Linked DNA regions of Homo sapiens. The protein of the gene in region 2 interacts with the protein of the main gene of each other region in a biochemical or structural test. Each region holds a gene or a part of one and is shown on either strand. Other genes may lie near its edges. The genes, in order: UPF2 and UPF3A.

Region 1 (7,000 bases), on a different chromosome or scaffold from region 2:
TTGCTCTATACTTTTCTACTGTAGTCCTGGAGCCCCCAAATGTATCTTCTTCCAACGTGGGATGTTCAATTCAGAGACACTGAAACTCAAATCAAGTTTAAAGCTCAAGTTCATTTCCCCCACACCATTACCATCACAACCCGTTTCTTCTCTGGCTCAATCATCTCCTTCACGCTCTCCTTGGTGTAACTGCTCAGTAGTCAAGTGAACCATCTCATTTCTTGACTGCCATTCTCAAGAGAAGATTAACCCTCGCGAGATTTCCATTACAAAAGGCCTTTTCCGCCTTGTCTGGAAGCGTCGGCTTGTTCCGGTGTTGGCAGAGGCTGGTGTTTCTGCCTCCTGGCCCCAGCCTGTCCCAGGTTTAGATTCGCAACTCTCTAGACCGACCTGCTGAGATGTGTCCACTGCTCTCATTCAATTGCTGGAGGACTCCACTAACCACAACATCAGATACAGGACCTAATGAAATGACACGTGCTGCTGGATCAACGTCTCCTAAAGGAACAAACAGGGTCACATCAGAGAGCTTACTGCCACAGGACAAAGTCCAGCAAGATGGCGTCTGCAACGCTACCCACCACCACCAAGTCACTCCCCCAAGTTACAGGTGGCCCTGGCATCTGCGGGTTCCACATCCATGGACCAAAAATATTCGGGGGAAAAAAACCCAAACAATAAAAAATAACATAAATATTAAAAACAATACAGTATATCAACTATCTCCATAGCATCTACACTTTATTAGGTATTACAAGTAATGTAGAGATGATGTAAAGTACACGGGAGGATGTGCATATGTTATACATAAATGCTACACCATTTTTTACCAGGGACTTGAATGTCTGTGCATTTTGGTGTCTGAGGGGATCCAGGAAGCAACCCCCTGTGGATACCGAGGACAACTGTAGTGCTTTTTTGAGAGCATTCATGCTCTCTACTGAGCTACAACTTAACCAGAGCCATTGGAGCAATGGCTGGAGGAGTGGCTCTGTTCTCTTCTACAACTTATTCTTAAGGTGCTAAGAATTCACAGTTTGTGTTATGGTTCAGTTGTGTATCCCCAAAATTCACATGTTAACACTGAACTGCAGGACCTCAGAATGTGACCGTATTTGGAAACAAGGTTGCTGTAGACGTAATTACTTCAGATAAGGCCATACTGGAGCAGGGTGGAGCCCTAATCCCATATGACTGCATCTCTATAAAAAGGGAAATTTGCACACAGACACACACAGGGGGAAAAGGCCACGTGAAGACAAAGGCGGAGACCAGGGTGAGGTATGACAAGGTATGGAAGCCAAAGACTGCCGGCACCCCCAGCAGTAGAAGGCAGGCCTGGAGCAGTCTTCCTCCAGGCCTCAGAAGGAACCAGCCCCGCTGACTCCCTGACCTCAGGTTTCCTGCCGGCGGCCTCCAGTGCTGCGAGACAACAGACATCTGTCGTTTAAGCTACTAGGGCTGTAATATTTTGTCATGGCAGCCCAAGCAGATGAACAGTTTGTTTCTTACAGAGCAAGCTACCTTAGCAAGAAACTTTCAAAGCGTTAAGATGCAAATATGGAAAAGTATATCCTCAGCTGGATAAGATCCGTAACTCTTCCAGAAATGAACTGATGGAAAGAACACAAGTATTCCCTGAGGGAATGAAAGAGAAGATTCAAGCATCTCTCCTGAAGTCAAGAAAAGGCAGCTATCTAACCTAGAATACTTTAAATAAATGCAGTAAATGACAGGAAAAAAATGTTCAAAATCTTTGCTAAGTAAGGTATAGTTATATCACTAGTTATAGTGTAAGGTGTCATTTGACTGGTTTATAAGCAAACAATCATTCTGAGTGACTCAAAAATCTATCAGCTCAAAAACTGTTTATTAATACAATATACACTTTGGATTAAATGCAATTCTACAATGGACTCTATTGTATAACAAAACTATCACTAATTTAACCTTACATAAAGATATATAAAAAAAAAATCTGATGAAAAAATGCAGACTCTACTTAAGATAGGTTTACAAGAGTTCAATATCAGCCTGGGCAACATAGTGAGACCTCGACTCCACTAAAAATAAAAAAAATTAGCCATTTGTAGTGGTGTGTGCCTATAGTCCCAGATACTGAGAGGCTGAGGCAGGACTGCTTGAGCCCAGGAGGTCGAGGCTGCGGTGACCTGTGATCACGCCACTGTACTCCAGCCTGGGTGACAGAGCAAGAACCTGTCTCAAAAACAAAATAAAACAACAACAAAATCATTTTTAAAAAGATGGGTTTAAAAGTCAGATAGTATACTCCTATGCCGCTAAGTGTAGGCCACACACCAGCAGTTTTGACATCACTGGAGATCTTGTTTAAAAGTAACCAGAGCTTGTTGTGCTCACTTCAGCAGCACATATACTAAAAATTGTAGTGATACAGAGAAGACTAGCATGGCCCTGTGCAAGGATGACATGCAGGTGGGGTGCAGTGGCTCACGCCTGTACCCTCAGCACTTTGGGAGGCTAACGCAGGCAGATCACTTGAGGTCAGGAGTTTTGGAGACCAGCCTGGCCAACATGGTGAGACCTCATCTCTACTAAAAATACAAAAATTTGGCTGGGCGCGGTGGCTCATGCCTGTAATCCCAGCACTTTGGGAGGCCGAGGAGGGTGGATCATGAGGTCAGGAGTTCAAGACCAGCCTGGCCAAGATGGTGAAACCCCGTCTCTACTAGAAATACAAAAATTAGCCAGGTGTGGTGGCAGGTGCCTGTAATCCCAGCTACTCGGGAGGCTGAGGCAGAGAATTGCTTGAACCCGGGAGGCGGAGGTTGCAGTGAGCAGAGATCACGCCACTGCACTCCGATATAGCGAGACCCCATCTCAAAAAAAAAAAAAAAAAAATTAGCTGGGCGTGGTGGCACATGCCTGTAATCACAGCTACTTGGGAGGCTGAGGCACAAGAATTGCTTGAACTCGGGAGGCAGAGGTTGCAGTGAGCCGAGATCCCGGCACTGCACTCCAGCCTGGGCAACAGAACAAGACTCCATCTCAAAAAACAACAAAAAAGAATGACACACAAATTCGTGAAGCTTTCCACAATAATTAAAAAATAATAATAAAAGAAACTAATCAGAACTTGCTTTTTAGTAAGAGTCTAGAGAGTTAATACGTATTTTAAAGTTTGAGAAGCATTGAAATAACCCATATGAATTAGTACCATCTAAGCCATGTAAGTATTAACACTTGCCAAAAATGTTAAGTTTCACAGATTTTCAATACTAGTGTATTAGAAAAACAACCTTGTTCTGCAATACAGAAAACCCTACATAATAGTTTTACTTACAGCACTGCTGCCGTTTCAACTCATTGTAAGCAAATGCCTCTTATTTGTTAAAGGGCTGAAATTTTAATTTATGTCCTTATTTCAAGGATCTCCTGGTTAGAAAATATACAAATACAAATTAAAATCTGGGAGTCCATCAAAAGCTACAGGAGAAAAATAGTTTATGCCGGGCGTGGTGGCTGACACCTATAATCCCAGCACTTTGGGAGGTCCAGGCAGGCAGATCACCTGAGGTCAGGAGTTCAAGACCAGCCTGGCCAACATGGCGAAACCATGTCTCTATTAAAAATACAAAAATTAGTCAAGAGTGGTGGACTGCATACCTGTAATCCCAGCCACTCGGGAGGCTAACAGAAGAATCACTTGAACCCAGGAGGTGGAGGGTGCACTGAACTGAGATTGTGTCACTGCACTCCAGCCTGGGTAACAGAGCAACATGTCGTCTCAAAAAAAAAAATCTTTTTTTTAAACTACTTTTTTTTTTGAGACAGGGTCTGGCTCTGTCGCCCAACCTGGAGTGCAGTGGTGTGATCTGGCAGTCTCTGCCTCCTGGGCTCAAGCGATCCTTCCACCTCGACCTCCCAAAGTGCTGAGATTACAGGCGTGAGCCACTGCTCCTAGACCTAAACTACTTTATAATCAGTTTCCAAATAAATTTCCCTTTATCTGCTGTATAACATTACTAATATTAATAACTGATTTTTTTTAATAGAGTTTCGCTCTTGTTGCCCAGGCTGGAGTGCAATGGCGCAATCTTGGCTCACTGCAACCTCACCTCCCAGGTTCGAGTGATTCTCCTGCCTCAGACTCCCGAGTAGCTGGGATTATAGGTGCCCGCCACCATGACCGGCTAATTTTTCTAATTTTAGTAGAGACGGGGTTTCACCATGTTGGTCAGGCTGGTCTCGAACTCCTGACCTCAGGTGATCTGCCTTCCTCGGCCCCCCAAAGTGCTGGGATACAGGTATGAGCCATCACAACCAGCCTTAAAATGTAAATTTTAAAAAAGGCAAAGAACATCTGGTCCTCTAAAGGGTAAAATCTCATGTTTCCATGTTTGTTCATCTACCATGTTTATCGCACCTATACTTTAGGAGCATTGACTATAAAAATTCCATTCGTGATACTTTACAGAGTGCTATTCTTAAGACTGATGGACAAGTTAGGTTTTCTTTTTTTAAGGTGCTATTTTAAGAAAAGATCTTAAAACAGGTTGAGTGGCTAGCTCAAAAGCTAGGACTCTTACAAAAAAGAAAAACAGAGGGAAGAGCTAGGGAGCAGAACTGGAATGAGAACGTTTATTCAGTGACTGAACACAGACTGTGAAAAGTTCTTTTGTCCATTCACCAAATATTTACTGAGCACCTACTAGGTGCCAGGCACCAAGAGCTGTGAAGGAGACAGAATGGAAACAACATGAGACTTGGTCCCAGCCCTCATCGCCTGTAATCTCATGGGGAATAGAGACAAGCTAAGCGGCACTTAAGGAGGACAAGGTCTGCAGAAATACCATAAGTCATGGCAGCAGATCCGCACTGACCTATGTCAGACTCAGGAACACCAAGGCAGGACCCGAAGGAGCAGGAGTTCTCCAGGGGAACAGCTGGAGACTGTTCCACACAGAGGAGGCAAAAAGAACACAGAACTAAAGGTCAGCTAGGCTGCAGCAGGAGAAAGAACAGCAGGAGATGAAGCCAGTAATGTATGTCCACCTGCACCACAGGGCCTTGGGAACCAAGTTGAGGAGTTTAGACTTTTTATCCTACAAGCCACGAGGAGCCATTGGATGATTTTAAGCAGAAGGGCACACACAGATATCAAATTTGTGTTTTAGAAAGAACACTGGGTCTATAGCGGGAGAATGAATTGGAAAGGGTTGAAGGTTGAGACGGAGAGGCTGATGAGGAGGCTGAGGCAGCAACAGCAATCCAGGCAAGAGGTGATGGTGGCTTGACCCATGGTCTTGGCTATGGGCAGAGAATAGAAAAGGCAAGAGTGAGGGCCATTTGGGAGCAGAATGCAGAGGATTTGCTAATGAACTACATTTAGGGATTGAGGGAGGAGGAGCTGTCAATAACACAACTTCCTTTTCTTTTGTGGACAAGAGGGCAGACAACGCTTCCTCTCCCTGCACTGGAGACCCTGGGGAAGAGGAGTCTGGGGCAGGGGCACGAGTCTTCCATCTCTGAGTCACAGTGGGGTGGAAAGTCAGAAATGAAAATGTGAGATCTGGGCTGGAGACCTGGATGGAAGTCAGGCCACTGGGAGGGATGACACCTCCTTTGAGAGTGCAGAAGGAGAAGAGGGCCCAGGCTGAGCCCAAGGAACACAGACATCCCTAGGCAGGGAAGCGCAGAAAGGAGGCAGTGTCAGCAGCAGGAGCCACAGTGATCGCGGGAAGGGAAAACCCAGAAGCCAGCAGAATCACAGATGCCAAGGAAGGGTCTGTTGGGAGAACAAGGAGGGCCTACAATGCAAAGTGCTGCTGAGATGAGGCCAAGAGATGGCAGGTGGGGATGCCAGTGATGGCAGAAGCTGCCTAGACCTAGGGACTGAGAAGGTGACAGGAGTCAATAATGAACCTCTTTTCTAGCATAGCCACTGGGGTGGGCAATGCCTCCCACTGCCAGCTGTGACTTGGCAGGGGTAAGCCACCCAAGTGGGAGCAAGGAAGAAGGGGCAAGTGTAGCCGATTCTTCCAAGGAGGAATTGGAGGGAGGAAGGGAAAATAGAAAGTGAAGGAACTCTGCAAAGTGACTAACACCGGTAACCAGGTTAAGAAAGGCTTACCTCTGTTCACACGCACGTCGATGACAGCACACACATGCTCACGTCGATGACAGCACACACATGCTTACATATCTCCTGCCTGGTCCTTAACAGACTCTCACCCAAGGTTTTTGAAACAGACAAATGAAGAGGGTGGAATTATCTTTCAAGTACCCATACTCGGCTTCCCTACTGGACCACAACCGTGCAGGTAAAGACCCTGTCTTGTACTCCATCTTCCACAGTGCAGTCCTGGATGAGTGTACACGGAGGGAGGCAAATCCTACTGGATGCCCCTTATGTCATCCAACTCCATAGTGAGTCTACACAAATTACTAAGACACTATACTTGCGATACATGAATTGTGAGGGGGTTAGGGATTAATAAAAACGTGCTATTCAGAGACGTTAGGCTGCAATATGAACAGGTGAAGATGATGGAAAACATCAAGATATTATGCTGGTGCAAAAGTAATTGCAGTTTTTCCCATTACTTTTATTGGCAAAAACCGCATTACTTTTTACCAACCGAAATACAAATATTCTAACAGTTTTGGTCTCTGATGATGAGACAGGAGGGAATAGATGTTATCAAGAACACTGTGGCATATATTTAAAGCTACTCTAAGAAAATGCAAAAGCAGGAAATGAACATTTTTCATTGCCTGTTAACCTAGCTAGTGTCCACATTTTAGCAGCAATAAAACAGGCTTAATTAAAGGACTTTAATAAAGTTTGGATAATTAAAAATAACCTAATATCTTATTGTGCCTAATTAGATGGGTTTACAGGTCATTTCCAACTTGGATTTTTTTTTTAAATTATACTCAACAGATGCTAAAGAACAGATCTCTAAACTGTCTTGACAAGCCAGTTTTCTACATTACAATTTGATTAGAGTTATCTGAG
Region 2 (15,922 bases):
AACGAAAGGCAGTGAGAAATCACACCTACGACTATGGCTCTGGGAAGCCGGCAGCCTAATCGCATTAGTCTTCCCACCTAAAATCCACGTCCATCATCCCCTGTGGGCCAAGTGGCCCTGGGCACCAGGAGACTGTGGGTGGCGAGAGGCAGTGAGTGGGCAGGAGTCCCGGAGGGGAAGGTAAGCCCAGGTGCCTGGGGCCCTGAGGATGGTGGATGCCAGGAGCAAGAGGGACAGGATCCCTCCTGACTGGCATCTGGCTGGTCTCTCTGGCCCACCGGGCAGATAATGCTGTGTCTGTCCCTTTCGCAGATGAGCTCCCTCCATAGAGCTGCACTGTCATATGCAGCAAAGGAAAAGAAAAAGGGAGGACCCACAGTGCACAGCCAAAGCTGCTGGTCAAGATCCACAGCCAGAGGAGCCAGGGACAGCTTCAACCAAAGGATCACAGCACTTAAAATTCTGTTTCTCTATCACAAAAGATCTGCCAGACCTAAAAGAGGGGGTTCCCAAATATGCAATTCTGTAGATAAATTGCAAGGGGGATAAAAGAGCAAAGGGCAAGATATCACAAACACAGAGAAAAATAAAAAACAAAAAACAAAAAGAAAGACTGGGAAGACAGATCCTGAAGACCTGACATGCAACAGCAGGAATCCAGGAGGCGGCTCAGGAGTAAAAGGAGGACATGGAGGCAAAAGCAAAGCAAACAACAGGAAGAAACTCCCGATCTGAAGACAGACTTGAGACTGCAGACAAGACGAGTTCACTACGTTCCTGCCATGCTGATGGGAAATGAAGGCTAACGTGTACTCGCACACCCTGGAAAGTCTTGGATTCCAAGAACAGTGTGAAATAGGCATACTCATACTGACAAAGCCTACGTCACCATGACTGGGAGCTGACGTGGTCATAACAATGAAAGCACGCTCACGTCTCCTGGGGCTCCTCCAGCGAGCCTTCCATGGGCCTGGCTTTTACGACTGCACCGGGGGCACAGGATTCCTGCTTGCCACCTCCAGTATCAATCTCCTCTCCTCTTTCTTTTGGTTTCTCTGTGGTTGGTTCCTCTCCCTTTTCTGGTTTCTTAAGAAGCTGAGAAATTACAATGTTAGTAAAGTATCACCTTGAGAGCATATTTTAAAAGAAGCTGTTAAATAAATAATTACAAATATACCCCAATATTGAAGCCAAATGTTTGCACAGCAAAGAATTAAAGCTAAAGGTCCAAAAATGAGGTTTTTGGTTTAATACGTGGTGGAACATTCAGTGAATGAAATATTTTTTAGTCATGAAAAGTAAGGTAGGTTAATGTGATGCAAAGATGTTCACGTAATGAATAAAGGGCTAAAAAACAGAACATGCACCACAATCTCACTTACACTTTTCTCTTTTGAGACAGAGTCTCGCTCTGTCGCCCAGGCTGAAGTGCCGTGGCGCACTCCCGGCTCACTGCAGCCTCCGCCTCCAAGGTTCAAGTGATTCTCCTGCCTCCACCTCCTGAGTAGCTGGGACGACAGGCATGCGCCACCATACCCGTCTAATTTTTTTTTTTTTTTTTGAGATGGAGTTTCACTCTTGTTGCCCAGGCTGGAGTGCAATGGCACGATCTTGGCTCACTGCAACCTCCTCCTCCCGGGTTCAAGTGATTCTCCTGTCTCAGCCTCCCAAGTAGCTGGGATTACAGGCGCCCACCACCACGCTCAGCTAATTTTTTGTATTTTTAGTAGAGACGGGGTTTCAGTATGTCGGCCAGGCTGATCTCAAACCCCTGACCTCAGGCAATCCACCCACCCTGGCCTCCCAAAGTGCTGGGATTATGGGCGTGAGCCACCGTGCCCAGCCCCCACTTCTATTTATGTTCACACACACACCACCACCTAAAGGGCTCTGCAGCACTGTATTAATAGTGATTATTTCCTTTTTTGAGATGGAGTCTCGCTCTGTCGTCCAGGTTGGAGTGCAGTGGTGCAGTCTCGGCTCACTGCAACCTCCGTCTCCTGGGTTCAAGCGACTCTACTGCCTCAGCCTCCTGAATAGCCAGGACTACAGGGGCGTGCCACCACACCTGGCTAACTTTTGTAGTTTTTGTTTGTTGTTTTTTTTGAGACGACGTCTCACTCTGTCACCCAGGCTGGGGTGCAGTGGCTTGATCTCAGCTAACTGCAACCTCTGCCACCCTGGTTCAAGCAATTCTCCTGCCTCAGCCTCTCAAGTAGCTGGGATTACAGGCTCCTGCCACCGTGCCTGGCTAATTTTTGTATTTTTAGTAGAGATGGGATTTCATCATGTTGGCCAGGCTGGTCTTGAACTCCTGACCTGTGATCCCCCAGCGTTGGCCTCCCAAAGTGCTGGGATTACAGGCATGAGCCACCATGCCCGGCCAATAGTGATTATTTCTAGATGGCAGAACTGAAATGACTTTATTTCCTTTCATCTATAGGGTCTAGTTTTCCTGACATAGACAAGTATTAGTTTTGTAATAAGGAAAAAAAAATTTTTAAAAGGCTGCTTCCTACTGATGATTTTTAGAATAGTTTATAGTTTTCAAAACACTGATTATTCTCTTTCCTGAAACAGAATTAATGAACAAGTCGCCACGACATATTTCATCTGCCCTGTATGCCCCTGGCCTTTCTCCCTGCTCTCTGTATAGTTTTTGAAACTAAAGCACCTCAGCTAACTTGAGAAAAGGGAGAAAAAAAAAAAAAACGGAAGCACCACAGACAGATCATTTGTAGAACAGAAATGGAAGGTGTACATCTGAGAATTCTGTTCTCACTCATAATTGCAGCATAGCAAGACCATACACAGATGCATTCAATCACACGTGTTCACTTGGGAACACAACGCATCATGCAAGGTGGAGCATTGGAAGCCGCTTCTCATCAAGCGTGGGCCCCATGTCAGCTGTGAACATCCTCTTATTCTGCCTATGTGGAATCTGGGAACTTAAACATTTCCTTTCTGGTAACTGCCCATCTTTTATAAAAATTGCAACAGTAACATGTCTGTAATAAATGTGAACCATAGGAAGTGCAAATCTCCATCCACCCATTCAACAAATATTCTGTGTGCCTAGGAACTGTTCTTACATTTCTGACACTGCACGTCTTTTTCAATACCACCCCTCCGACACCAGCTGCGTGCTCCACATTCAACTCAACTCTGAGATCATCGACCTGGAGTTAGCACCAGAACCCACGGGTCAAGGGCTCAGTCCCACAAGACTGCCCCCCTTTCAGACGACAGTTCCAAGTCCCAGTGTGTCACCGGTACTTCTGACCAGTCAGCAATAAATTCAGGGGTTCCCGATGGCCTCTCCTCAGATTTGGTAAGTTGCTGAAATGGCTCACAGAACTCAGAAAGGCACTGTTTTCTCGATTATTGGCTAATCATAAAGGATACAACCCAGAACAGCCAAACGGAAAAAATGCACAAGGTGGGTATGGGGTATGGTGTAGTGGTACTTGGAGCTTCCATGCAGTAACCCTCCCAGCACCTTGATGTGCTCACCAACCCGGAAGGCCCGTCTATTTTTTTTATTTTTTTTGAGATGGAGTCTTGCTCTGTCACCCAAGCTAGACTGCAGTGACGCGATCTCGGCTCACTGTACCTTCGCCTCCTGGGTTCAAGCGATTCTTCTGCCTCAGCCTCCTGAGTAACTGGGACTACAGGCATGCGCCACCATGCCTGGCTAATTTTTGTATTTTTAGTAGAGACGGGGTTTCACCATATTAGCCAGGCTGGTCTCAAACTCCTGACCTCGGGATCCACCTGCCTTGGCCCCCCAAAGAGCTGGGATTACAGGCGTGAGCCACTGTGCCTGGCCCCTGGAAGCCCTGTCTTTAGGCATTATTAAGGTTTCATTATGTAGGTGTGACTGATTAAGTCACTGGCCACCGGTGACCTCTCTCTAGGCCCTCTGCCCTCTCGGAGGCTAGGGTGGGACTGAAAGTCCCAACCCTCTAGTCCTGCCTTGGCTTTCTGGCCAACTAGTCCCCATCCTGAAGCTGCCTGGGGCCCCCAGCCCCTAGTCCTCTCATTGGCATATAAGACACTCATATTACTGCAGATTCCCGAGGTCTGAGGAGCTGTGTGCAGGAACCAGGGCCTAAGACCCTGTGCTAGGCACTAGGGAATGGCTGTGAATGAGACAAGAGGTGCCCCTGCCTCGAAGGAACTTGCGCCTGATGCACCACCTGAGGCAACGGTGGTCAAGGGGGAATGCTGTGAACAGTGGCAAAAATATGAAAAAGGAAACAAAGGAATAAGATAACCTCAGGTAGCATCAAAAGCTACGAACAGACATGAAGGGAGAGTAAAGCATCAGAGACGCAGGAAGAGGAGGGCCCAGGAGGGCTCTCTGCAGAGCCAAGACGGGAACTAAGACCAGATGCCAAGAAGGAGCCACGGGCACATCTGGGGAAGTCCCTGTGGAGGGAAACGTGCGGAGTCCTGAGGTGGAATCCGCTGGTGCATTCATGAGAAACCAGCAGGCCAGAGCCGCTGGAGACGAGCTGGGGAGCACGCCAGAGCCGCTGGAGACGAGCTGGGGAGCACGCCAGAGCCGCTGGAGACGAGCTGGGGAGCAGGCCAGAGCTGCTGGAGACGAGCTGGGGAGCAGGCCAGCTCTGCCACGCCCTGCAAGGCTTCCGGAGGCCAAGCGGAGCGCATGGGCAGCTGTGCTCCCTCCCAGCCCTCGCCTGTGTGTGTTCACCCATGTGGCCACACATAAGCTCACTGCTTAGCATCCTCAGAGGAACATTAAACAGCTGAGCTGTTCTGTGTGCCGTATTTCTTTTCTTTTTTTTTTTTTTTTTGAGACGGAGTCTTGCTCTGTCGCCCAGGCTGGAGTGCAGTGGCGCAATCTTGGCTCACTGCAAGCTCCGCCTCCCGGGTTCATGCCATTCTCCTGCCTCAGCCTTCCAAGTAGCTGGGACTACAGGCTCCCGCCACCACGCCCAGCTAATTTTTTGTATTTTTAGTAGAGATAGGGTTTCACCGTGTTAGCCAGGATGGTCTCGATCTCCTGACCTAATGATCCGCCCACCTCGGCCTCCCAAAGTGCCAGGATTACAGGTGTGAGCCACCGCGGTCCAGCCTTTTTGAGACGGAGTCTCGCTCTGTCGCCCAGGCTGGAGTGCAGTGGCGTGATCTCAGCTCACTGCAACCTCTGCCTCCCAGGTTCAAGCGATTCTCCTGCCTCAGCCTCCTGAGTAGCTGGGACTACAGGCGTGTGCCACCACGCCCAGCTATTTTTTTGTATTTTTAGTAGACATGGGGTTTCACTGTGTTAGCCAGGATGGTCTCGATCTCCTGACCTCGTGATACGCCCGCCTCGGCCTCCCAAACCATATTTCTCTTTATTAAGAATAGCCATGAGTGCTACGCACGGTGGCTCATGCCTCTAACCCCAGCAGTGGGAGGATCACTTCAGCCCAGGAGTTCAAGACCAGCCTGGACAACATAGTGAGACCCCCACTTCTACAAATTTTTTTTTAAATTAGCTATTCAGGTATGATGTTGCACCCCTGTAATGGGAGGCTGAGGCGGGAGGATCACTTGAGCCTGGGAGGTAGAGGCTGCAGTGAGCTGTGACTGTGCCACTACACTCCAGCCTGGGTGACACATTGAGACCCTGTCTCAAACCCCCCCCCCACCAAAACCAAACAAAAAAATAGCAAAATAGCCATGAGCCATCTGTCTTTCTTTAAGCTGTTGATACACCTTCTTTTGCATTTCTCCACAGATTCCATTTTTCAGGCATTAAAAGAATTTCAATTTTCCACATGATTTAGAAGTGAAAGACCCCCATACTGAGCACAGATACTTATTAAAAGCTAAACCAGGCCAGGCATGGTGGCTCACGCCTGTAATCCCCAAACTTTGGGAGGGTGAGGCAGGAAGATCACTTGAGTCCAAGAGTACGAGACCAGCCTGGGCAATATAGTGGGAACCCCATCTCTACAAAAAACAGAAACAGGGTCTCTCTCTGTTGCCCAGGCTGGTCTTGACCTCCTGGGCTAGAGCAATCCACCTGCCCTGGTCTCCCAAAGTCCTGAGATTATAGGAATGAGCCATCATACCCAGCCAACTTTTCTGTTTTTGACTGCTGACCATATCAGAAACAAATCTATGGTTCAATGATCTCTTCCCCACCCTTTCCTAAGCTATCTTCTTTCCCCAAGTCCTGACATTTCATTTTTTTCCTCATATTGTACAATATTATTGAATATAAGGTATTCAATAAATAATAAGTAATGAGTGATACCTTAGGTTCAAATCTAGGTTTAGTACTGAGGAGATAATGGCTGGTCCCAATTCTGGCCAACACATTTCACACAGAGAAAAATTCCCTCTATGTATTAAACCACCCTCATAAATGAATGTATCAGTCACAGAAAAAACTCAGCAAGAAATACAGAAACTCATTAGTGCTACTGCCAAAGAAATGATAAAACCCGGTTCTGAGTCAGCCTTCACACAGAAAGGCAAAACCAGTGGTTTTCAAATGTGTATTTTTTAATCAGGGAAACTTTTTTTTTTTTAAGACAGAGTCTTGCTCTGTTGCCCAGGCTGGAGTGCAGTGGCGCGATCCCGGCTCGCTGCAACCTCCGCCTCCTGGGTTCAAGTGATTCTCCTGCCTCAGCCTCCTGAGTAGCTGGGATTCCAGGCACACGCCACCACGTCCGGCTCATTTTTGTGTTTTTAGTAGAGATGGGGTTTCCCCATATTGGCCAAGCTGGTCTCAAACTCCTGAACTCAAGTAATCCGCCTGCCTCGGTCTCCCAAAGTGCTGAGATTATAGGTGTCAGCCACCCCACCCGGCCAGGAAATTTTTTTTTTTTTTTTTTTTTTTTGAGAGGGAGTCTTGCTCTGTCGCCCAGGCTGGAGTGCAATGGCGCGATCTCGGCTCACTGCAACCTCTGCTCCCTGGGTTCAAGCGATTCTCCTGCCTCAGCCTCCTGAGTAGCTGGGATTAAGGCGTCCGCCACCACACCTGGCTAATTTTTGTATTTTTAGTAGAGACAGGGTTTCACCATGTTAGTCAGGGTGATCTCGAACTCCTGACCTCGTGATCTGCCCGCCTCAGCCTCCCAAAGTGCTGGGAGGAAAACTTTTTTTTAAAGGAAAATGTAGAGGGTGGAGAATGGGAGGAGGGTGAAGACTGAAAAACATCAGGTACTGTGCTGATTACCTGGGCAACAAAATTATCTGCACACCAAACCCCAGTGACACTTGATTTACCCATGTGACACACCTGCACGTGTACGCCTTGAGCCGAAAATGAACACGTAACACACCTGCACGTGTACGCCTTGAACCGAAAATGAACACGTAACACACCTGCACGTGTACGCCTTGAGCCGAAAATGAACACGTAACACACCTGCACGTGTACGCCTTGAACCGAAAATAAACATGTGGCACACCTGCACGTGTACGCCTTGAGCCGAAAATGAACACGTAACACACCTGCACGTGTACGCCTTGAACCGAAAATGAACATGTGGCACACCTGCACGTGTAAGCCTTGAGCCGAAAATGAACACGTAACACACCTGCACGTGTACGCCTTGAGCCGAAAATGAACATGTGACACATCTGCACGTGTACGCCTTGAGTCGAAAATGAACACGTAACACACCTGCACGTGTACGCCTTGAGCTGAAAATGAACATGTGACACATCTGCACGTGTACGCCTTGAGTCGAAAATGAACACGTAACACACCTGCACGTGTACGCGTTGAGCTGACAATGAACATGTAACACACCTGCACATGTACGCCTTGAGCCGAAAATGAAAGTTGGAAAGTTTAAAAAAAAAAAAAAAAAAAAGAGCGTCAGCAGCAGCCCAACGTGTGCCAGCGTGGGGCTCCTGTGGGGTGTGCTCCCCACTGCACACCCAGGAGGACAGGCACCCAACAGCAGCCTGAGGACTCCCAGGGCTCAGGACGCACTGTGATAACCACTGCTGTAGGATGGAAAGAAAGATGGAAAAGATGGAAAAAAATAACAACACAATATTAGATTAATTCAGAATGTTTTCAAAATTCTAAAGAACTAAGATATGTAAAAAGTGTAATTACTATAGCAGAGCTATTTTTGGAAAAAGGAAATGTTTCCTCAGAATTACCTTAATCCTTACTTCTTTCTCTGCAATTTTCTTCTGTTTATCTGTCTCTTTTTTTTTGCATCTTTCTTCTTCTCTTCTTCTTCTTTTTTCCTCTTCCCGCAAACGTTTCTTTTCTAACTCTCTCCTCCTCCGTTCTTCTCGCTTCTCTTCTCGAATTCTCTAAAGACATGGAAGAGCGTGTGTATAAACTGCCTGGATGAGAATGGCAGAAGCAGGGAGGGTGTTCATCAGGTAAAGGCCAGACCTACCTGCTTTTCTAATTTTCTATTTTTAATATATTCCAAAAGAGGTGTGGTTCTTCTAGCTAAAACACAAAAATTGTAATATTGTATTTAACTCCTAAAGAAAGATGTATTTTAAATACTTGTTTTGAATGTAATCTTTAAAATAAATACGGGAACCATATCATTACTTTTTAAATTTACACACTGTCTCCAGGGGAGTTTTTATTCCATTACTGTCAGGTCAAGTAATTTGAAAGTATCAACAATTTCATACATAGTAGACATCTAATTCCTGATTCTTAAGGGAGGCTTAAAATATTCCAAGATGATATTTTTGTAGGTGCCTTAAATCATTAAATAACATATATTTATTTTGATACATCGCATATTCTGAGAACTTTTTCGTTTTCCGTTCTCCAAGCAACAGTTTTAAAATAACATGGATTCTTGTAATGTCTTACAATATATACTCCATAAAATCCCAATGATAAGACATACAACTCTGGATTGTAGTTTAGAAAATGACTCCACATGGGCCGGGCGTGGTGGCTCACACATGTAATCTCAGCACTTTGGGAGGCCAAGGCGGGCAGATCACCTTAGATTGGGAATTCGAGACCAGCCTGACCAACCTAAGGAAACCCCGTCTCTACTGAAAAAATACAAAATTAGCCGGGCGTGATGGCACGCGCCTATAATCCCAGCTACTCGGGAGGCTGAGGCAGGAAAACTACTTGAACACGGGAGGAGGAGGTTGCAGTGAGCCGAGATTGCGCCACTGCACTCCAGCCTGGGCAACAACAGCGAAACTCTGCCTCAAAAAAAAAAAAAAAAGAAAAAAAAGAAAAGAAAAAGAAAATGACTCCATATGGCGCTGCTGATTGCAGAAAAGGCACCAACTACTAGGGAATGAACATTTCTACAGACTCTATCTTGGTCCTTCGCTTTCATGCCCGACCTCTCAGATCTGACCTGGATGTGGGTGCCCAGGCAAGCTAGAGGCCCCACAGGCCCCACCTCAGAGGGACTTGCGCTGACATGGACAGGCCCCACATCCCACCAACACAAGGACACAAATGGGAAGGGGGAAGACGGGGTCTACTCTGTGGGTCTGTAAGATCTCAGACTAAACAGGGCTGGGAAGAATCCCTGGATGTACCTGAAAACTGACACATCATCTCTGGAATTCTGAGGACCAGGAATGAATCAGGAATCATAGGAGAAGCCCTGGCCAGGGATCCATCACTTGGAACTGAGAACCCCTGACACCCTGACATCATAGATGAAATGGCACCTGTCCCAGAAGCCCTTCCCCAGGGACAGTCTGTGGTTGTAGGGAAGAGCCGATTGTCCCAGGAGCCCTGCCCCAGGCACAGTGGTTGTAGGGAAGAGCTGATGCAGGTACAAATGCCACATTTCGTGGCAGACACAGTTGCCACAGAGAACACTCCCCCAGGGGTCCCTGGGCTGACCATGAACTCTGGCTCAGGGTGAGTACAGCACACTGGCTCAGGTAAATGGTCAGCTCTTTGTAATGGGCAAATTATCTCAAATCAGCCAGGGTTCTGCTCTGCTCTGTGGAAAGCCTGAACTTGTCAGCCAGGAGCCGGGCGAGACCACCTGGATGTGTGGGGAGGCTGACCCCAGACTCCGCTTGCCCACCTTCCTCTTCCTATAAAATGTCTGCCCTATCACCCACAGGGATCACGGGCAAAGTACGTTAGACCCTGAATAAGAAAGTGTTCTACACATCATAAAAGTATGTTATTTATCAGACAGAATACGCACAACCATGCAACAGAACACAAGTAAACAGAAGTCTCAGAGCTGAACCCAGGCCTGTCTGCTCTAAAGGCCGATGCTAAAGGCCGATGCACCAGACTAACTCAACAACTCCAGAGTCCTTGCCAGAAACAGCTTATTAGTATTTCCATTTAACACTTGCTTCTCAGACCTGTGCAGAAGAATCCACTGGAGGCCAAAAGCTTAGAAAAGAAAAAGGTAATCTGCCATGAATTGCCTAAAATTTTTTTTTTTTTTTTTTTTGAGATGGAGTCTTACTTTGTCGCCAGGCTGGAGTGCAGTGGCGTGGTCTTGGCTCACTGTAACCTCCGCCTGCCGAGTTCAAGCGATTCTCCTGCCTCAGCCTCCCAAGTAGCTGGGACTACAGGCGCATGCTACCACGCCCAGCTAATTTTTGTATTTTTAGTAAAAACGGGGTTTCACCATGTTGGCCAGAAAGGTCTCAATCTCTTGACCTCATGATCTGCCCGCCTCAGCCTCCTAAAATGCTGGGATTACAGGTGTGAGCCACCGCACCCGGCCAAGTTTCAATTTTTCATACATAGAAACAGCAATCACAGAAACAAGGAAGACTCTACAGCCAAGTCCTGGAATGAATTAATCGCTCCCATCAGGGATGGTGGGTTCTAAGCCACATTCATTCATTCATTCAGCCAACTTTTGTGAAGCATTGGCTGTGCAGCAGACTCTCGGGGAGGTGCCAGGACATGCCCCCCTCTCCCCACCCCGGCAGGAGCCACGTGTCTGCCCCAAAAAGGTATGTCTCAAAACAGCCCTAAAGTGACCGATCCTTTGCAAGGGGACATTTAAAACAAAGTGAGATGGAAATGGGAGGGGCAGGGAGATGAGGCCTGTAATAACGTCTAATTTGCTGCTTCTAGCTCTTCTTCAATTTATCAAGTTCTTAAGTGAAATCTCGACTTTGCCCCCAATACTGTCCTACCCTCATGTTCCCTTGTGTATAATGGTGCCACAATCCACCCATCTGTTCAAGCCAAGCACTGGAGTCTTAATTCTTCCTGTCCCCTTACCTCCCACACCCTATCCGTCTGTCGGTCCTGTCCAGCCCACCTCCAAAACACACGCTCATCTCTTGGCATCCACAGTCTATCCCATGTGACACCACCAAAGTGACGGGGACAAATAATCAGACCATGCTACTCCCCCAGTGGCTTCCAGTTGCCCTGGAATGAATCTAAATGTCTTGCAGTGCCCTGAACCTCCAACCACGCTGCCCTCACCCATGTGTGCCAACCCCACAAGCCTGCACTCTGCGCCTGCAGTGAAAAGCGACAGCAGCCGGCCCTGCCCCTGGCGCTTCCTTCCTCCACTGCTCAGCACGGCCAGGCTCAGCTCATCTCCTGACCTCTTTCCCTCCCGCAGCCAGTCTCAGCTCCAGCTCCACCACTATCTTGGAGGGAGTCTCCCAACCTCTTTCCCTCCCATATTCCACTTTGTCACATCAGTGGCAGTGATTACACACTGAGGTGCCCTGGTTGGACTATTCCTGCTCCTGCTTCCAACCTGTCATCCCGATGGTAGGCAGAGGCCTTGTGCAACCTGCTTACCACTTGGCCCCATGCTGAGGCCCAGAGTCAGTGCCCAGGCAGCATGCAGCCTCAGCATATTTTGTTTACTTTAGTGATCAAAAGCCTTATTACGGCTAGGTGTGGTGGCTCACGCCTGTAATCCCAGTACTTTGGGAGGCTGAGGCAGGCGGATCATCTGAGATCAGGAGTTCAAGACCAGCCTGGCCAACATGGTGAAACCCATCTCCACAAAAATATAAAAATTAGCTGGGCATGATGGCGGGTGCCTGTAATCCCAGCTACTCAGGAGGCTGAGGCAGAAGAATGGCCTGAACTGGGAAGGCAGAGGTTGCAGTGAGCCGAGATTGTGCCACCGCACTCCAGCCTGGGCAACAGAGTGGGGGGAAAAAAAGCTTTATTACTAGATAAATGAAGAAAGTGAACGGACTATTTCAGTAATATTAATCTTTTTTTATTAATTCAATCAACATCTACTAAATTCCTGAACTTTTCTACAACCATGAAGATGAAAATATAGTTCCACTGGGGAGACAAAACAAGAAGGGAGTTTATGTGGTGGGAGACAGACAGGAAAATAAATGATAAACAATGTGGCTGTCATGTCACATCAATTTTATTGGTTTTTTGAGATGGAGTCTCGCTCTGTCACCAGGCTGGAGTGCAGTGGTGCGATCTCAGCTCACTGCAACCTCCGCCTTCTGGGTTCAAGCGATTCTCCTGCCTCAGCCTCCTCAGTAGCTGGAACTATAGGCACGCACCACCATGCCCTGCTAATTTTTTGTATCTTTAGTAGAGATGGGGTTTCACCATGTCGGCCAGGCTGATCTCGAAGTCCTGACCTTGTGATCCGCCCACCCTGGCCTCCCAAAGTACATCCATCTTGATGGGTGGGCAGGGCACAGCCTGGGCGGGAGAGATGAGAGGTGAAGAACCAGGGCTTTGAGGAAAGGAGATCCACAGAGAAGAGAAACACTACCAGGTGTGTCTGGGACTAAACAACAACAGTTTGCCTGATTTTCATGTTGGTGCTACTGGGAAGTATGTTGGTGCTACTGGGAAGTAACTATTTCTAAAGTACACCACTTGTGGGCATGGGGTGGAAGGCTGGATTTAAACTCGATTCTGTGCTCTGGCTGGGCTTATCCACAAGTTGGCCTGGCTCGGGGAGCCTGGCATTTGTGTTGAAGCAGCAAGATGACCTCACCGCAAGCAAAACATCTCATTCCTATGGGCTCTTGAGGCATCCGTCTGTGACCACTGACTTCAACTATGTGACACAACATGCCTTCCCTGACGCTCAGGAACAGACCATTCATGTGTCTTCTGCACTGCTCATTCGGAAGCATCATAACTTAAAATGATCTTAACTAAAAAAATCACGTGCTCTCCATCAACCAACGCTCAGAAATATTTTCCCATGCTGCCATCTTGCCATTCTTTTGTCAAAACTGGAAATCACTCTACATTTCTGTCAAGCCTGTAACAAGTTTCAACTTGTTATCACAGTCAAGAAAAAGAGAAAAAACGTATATCCTCTACGAGTAAATCTCTCAATAAAGAAAAGAGAAGAAATGAGCAAAACAGACCAATGAGCTCTCTTGTCTTCGCCTCCATCTCCCCCAGCAGAGTCTCAGGGTTGGCACTGGTCTTCTCTTCCTCCACACAGTAGGTTTCTAAAAACTTCTTATATTCTGGATCTAGACATTAAAAAGTAGGAAGAAAATAAATATAATCTTTCCCAACTACGGGAGAATTACATTTGCTCAGTGTTCTTAATTTGGCAGCTTCATAACGTAGCACTTGGAAAGGGCTCACCATCTTCGATGCTTCCAGTCTTGGCATCTTTTTTTCTCAGCTTCTTTTTGGCTATCTTCTGGAATGGAGCAAACTCTACCACTGCAGGATATTCTAGGCCTTTTAACAGGAAACATGTTCCAGAAGCCATTCTGAAATTCTACTACATTCATTTCGGAAAATAATGACCTAACTTACTTAAAGAGTAAGTGTAACAACGACAATGCATTATTACTATTTAAACTATAATTCATCCTTCCAGTAAGAGATTAAAAAAAAGATTAAAAAACCTACAATTTTATTACACTTTCAAGCACCTGCAACCTTAACACGGCAAACTCCAGACTTAAACAAGGATGAACTCCTGGTAAGAAGAACATTTACTAAAACAATCCATCATGTTGTGGTGGTTGCATAACTGAAGTTGTTCAAAATTCATCAAATTGTTCACTTTAAAAGGGTGACTTTTACCATATGTAACTTACACCTCAATATACCTGACCTCCCCAGCCCCATCCCAAATAATTTATCGTTGGAATACCTTTAAATAATGATTTCTTAGCTACACTTTACATTTTATTTTAAAAGGTTAATTCAACTATCAATTTGTTATTTAAGTTCAAGAAAATTACTTTGCTTAGAAGACACCATGGCTAAAATAGAGGGTTTCAAAGGGTTTATAGAATATTCCAGGTGAAATCTGCTTCTGATAAAAGTAGAGAATGGAAGTCATTAGAAACTAACTTCGTTGCTATGTGGGGGAAAAACAAATACACAAAGAGAAATGTTCACTAAGAGAACCTGCTATATGCTGAATCATCAAATGGAACACTGCTACCTTGGTACTAAACCCACTGAGTCATTTTTTTTTGACTTGTCAGTAATAGTCAGGTGACTGAATTATAATTCCTTTAACTGGGAGATATTTTTGTGCCAACCTCCACTATCCAGAATAAAGTCAAGACTCAGGGGGACGGCAGGGCACTGGACCAGCAGGGACGATGTCCAAGTCACCGCTCCACCCACAAGGCCTAGCACACAGTGGATACTCATTCAATGGCAGATGACATACTCCCTGATTCCAAAGCTGAAAGTAATCAGTGTGGTACTGCCATGTAGACAGACACATCCACCAAGGGAATAAAATAGAGAGCACAGAAATAAACCTTTGTAATACTTGGTCAACTGATTTTTGAAAAGGGTGCCCAGACCATTCAATGGGGAAAAGAAAGTCTTTTCAACAACTGGTGCTGGGAAAACTGGATATCCACAGCCAGAAGAATGAAGCTGGACCCTTACCTAACACCATATACAAAAAGTAACTCGATATGGATCAAACCTAAATATAAGACCTGAAACCATAAAACACTTGGAAAAAAACACAGGGGAAAAGCTCCATGGCAATGGATTTGGCAATGGGTTGCATATGACATCAAAAGCACAGGCTTAGGCCAGAGACCATAAAAACAACGGCAGGGCAGCGGCTCACGCCTGTAGCCCAGCACTTTGGGAGGCCAATGTGGGGGGAATCGCTTGAGCTCAGGAGTTTGACACCAGCCTGGGCAACATAGTGAGACCCCATCTCTAAAAAACAAAACAACGACAACAAAGATAACCGGAAACAAGGACGACTGGCCCCTTGCTCACTACAGGTGGGAACCTAAAATGGCGCAGTCACTGTGGAAAACAGTATGGTATAAATTTTGTGACTTTTTTTTTTTTTGAGACAGAGTCTCACTCTGTCACCAAGGCTACAGTGTAGTAACACGATCTTGGCTCACTGCAACCTCTGCCTCCCGGGTTCAAGTGAGTCTCATGCCTCAGTCTCCCAAGTATCTGAGATTACAGGCATGCCTCATGATGCCTGGCTAATTTTTTTTTTTTTTTAGTAGAGACAGGGTTTCACCATCTTGGCCAGGCTGGTCTCGAACCCCTGACCTCAACTGATCTACATTCCTCGGCCTCCCAAAGTGCTGGGATTACAGGAGTGAGCCATCACACCTGGCCATGTTACACATATTTTACACACACACACACATATACATACACGTACATACACATACATATTTTTTTGCTCCGTCGCCCCGGCTGGGATGCAGTGGCATGATCTCGGCTCACTGCAACCTCCGCCTCCCAGGTTCAAGCAATTCTCCTGTCTCAGTCTTCCGAGTAGCTGGGACTACAGGCGCCTGCCACCATGCCTGGCTAATTTTTGTATTTTTAGTAGAGACAGGGTTTCACGTTGTTGCTCAGGCCGGTCTCGAACTCCTGACCTCGTGATCCACCCGCCTTGGCCTCCTAAAGTGCTGGGATTACAGGTGTGAGCCACTGTGCCCGGCCCACCAATATTTTTTAAGTGAAAAAGGGAAACTCAGTAAGTTACTGAATAAATGAGCAATGAACACAAAG

The links.
Region 1: the proteins of UPF3A (region 2) and UPF2 form a complex in vitro, tested with the Homo sapiens proteins (2 studies listed by IntAct, with this or other methods).

What each region holds. Positions count from the first base shown.
Region 1 is NC_000010.11:11,920,810-11,927,809, forward strand, and holds part of UPF2 (regulator of nonsense transcripts 2), read right to left. Parts: intron 499-7,000; coding exon 489-498; 3' UTR 1-488. UniProt on the Homo sapiens protein: Involved in nonsense-mediated decay (NMD) of mRNAs containing premature stop codons by associating with the nuclear exon junction complex (EJC).
Region 2 is NC_000013.11:114,284,013-114,299,934, reverse strand, and holds part of UPF3A (regulator of nonsense transcripts 3A), read right to left. Parts: intron 15,842-15,922; exon of another isoform or gene 15,577-15,841; intron 13,677-15,576; exon of another isoform or gene 13,665-13,676; coding exon of another isoform or gene 13,634-13,664; coding exon 13,535-13,633; intron 13,417-13,534; coding exon 13,306-13,416; intron 13,197-13,305; coding exon of another isoform or gene 13,180-13,196; exon of another isoform or gene 12,623-13,179; coding exon of another isoform or gene 12,399-12,622; exon of another isoform or gene 12,149-12,398; intron 8,447-12,148; coding exon 8,391-8,446; intron 8,335-8,390; coding exon of another isoform or gene 8,302-8,334; coding exon 8,143-8,301; intron 8,137-8,142; exon of another isoform or gene 7,351-8,136; intron 7,265-7,350; exon of another isoform or gene 6,214-7,264; intron 4,585-6,213; coding exon of another isoform or gene 4,483-4,584; exon of another isoform or gene 3,827-4,482; intron 1,096-3,826; coding exon 935-1,095; intron 1-934. UniProt on the Homo sapiens protein: Involved in nonsense-mediated decay (NMD) of mRNAs containing premature stop codons by associating with the nuclear exon junction complex (EJC) and serving as link between the EJC core and NMD machinery.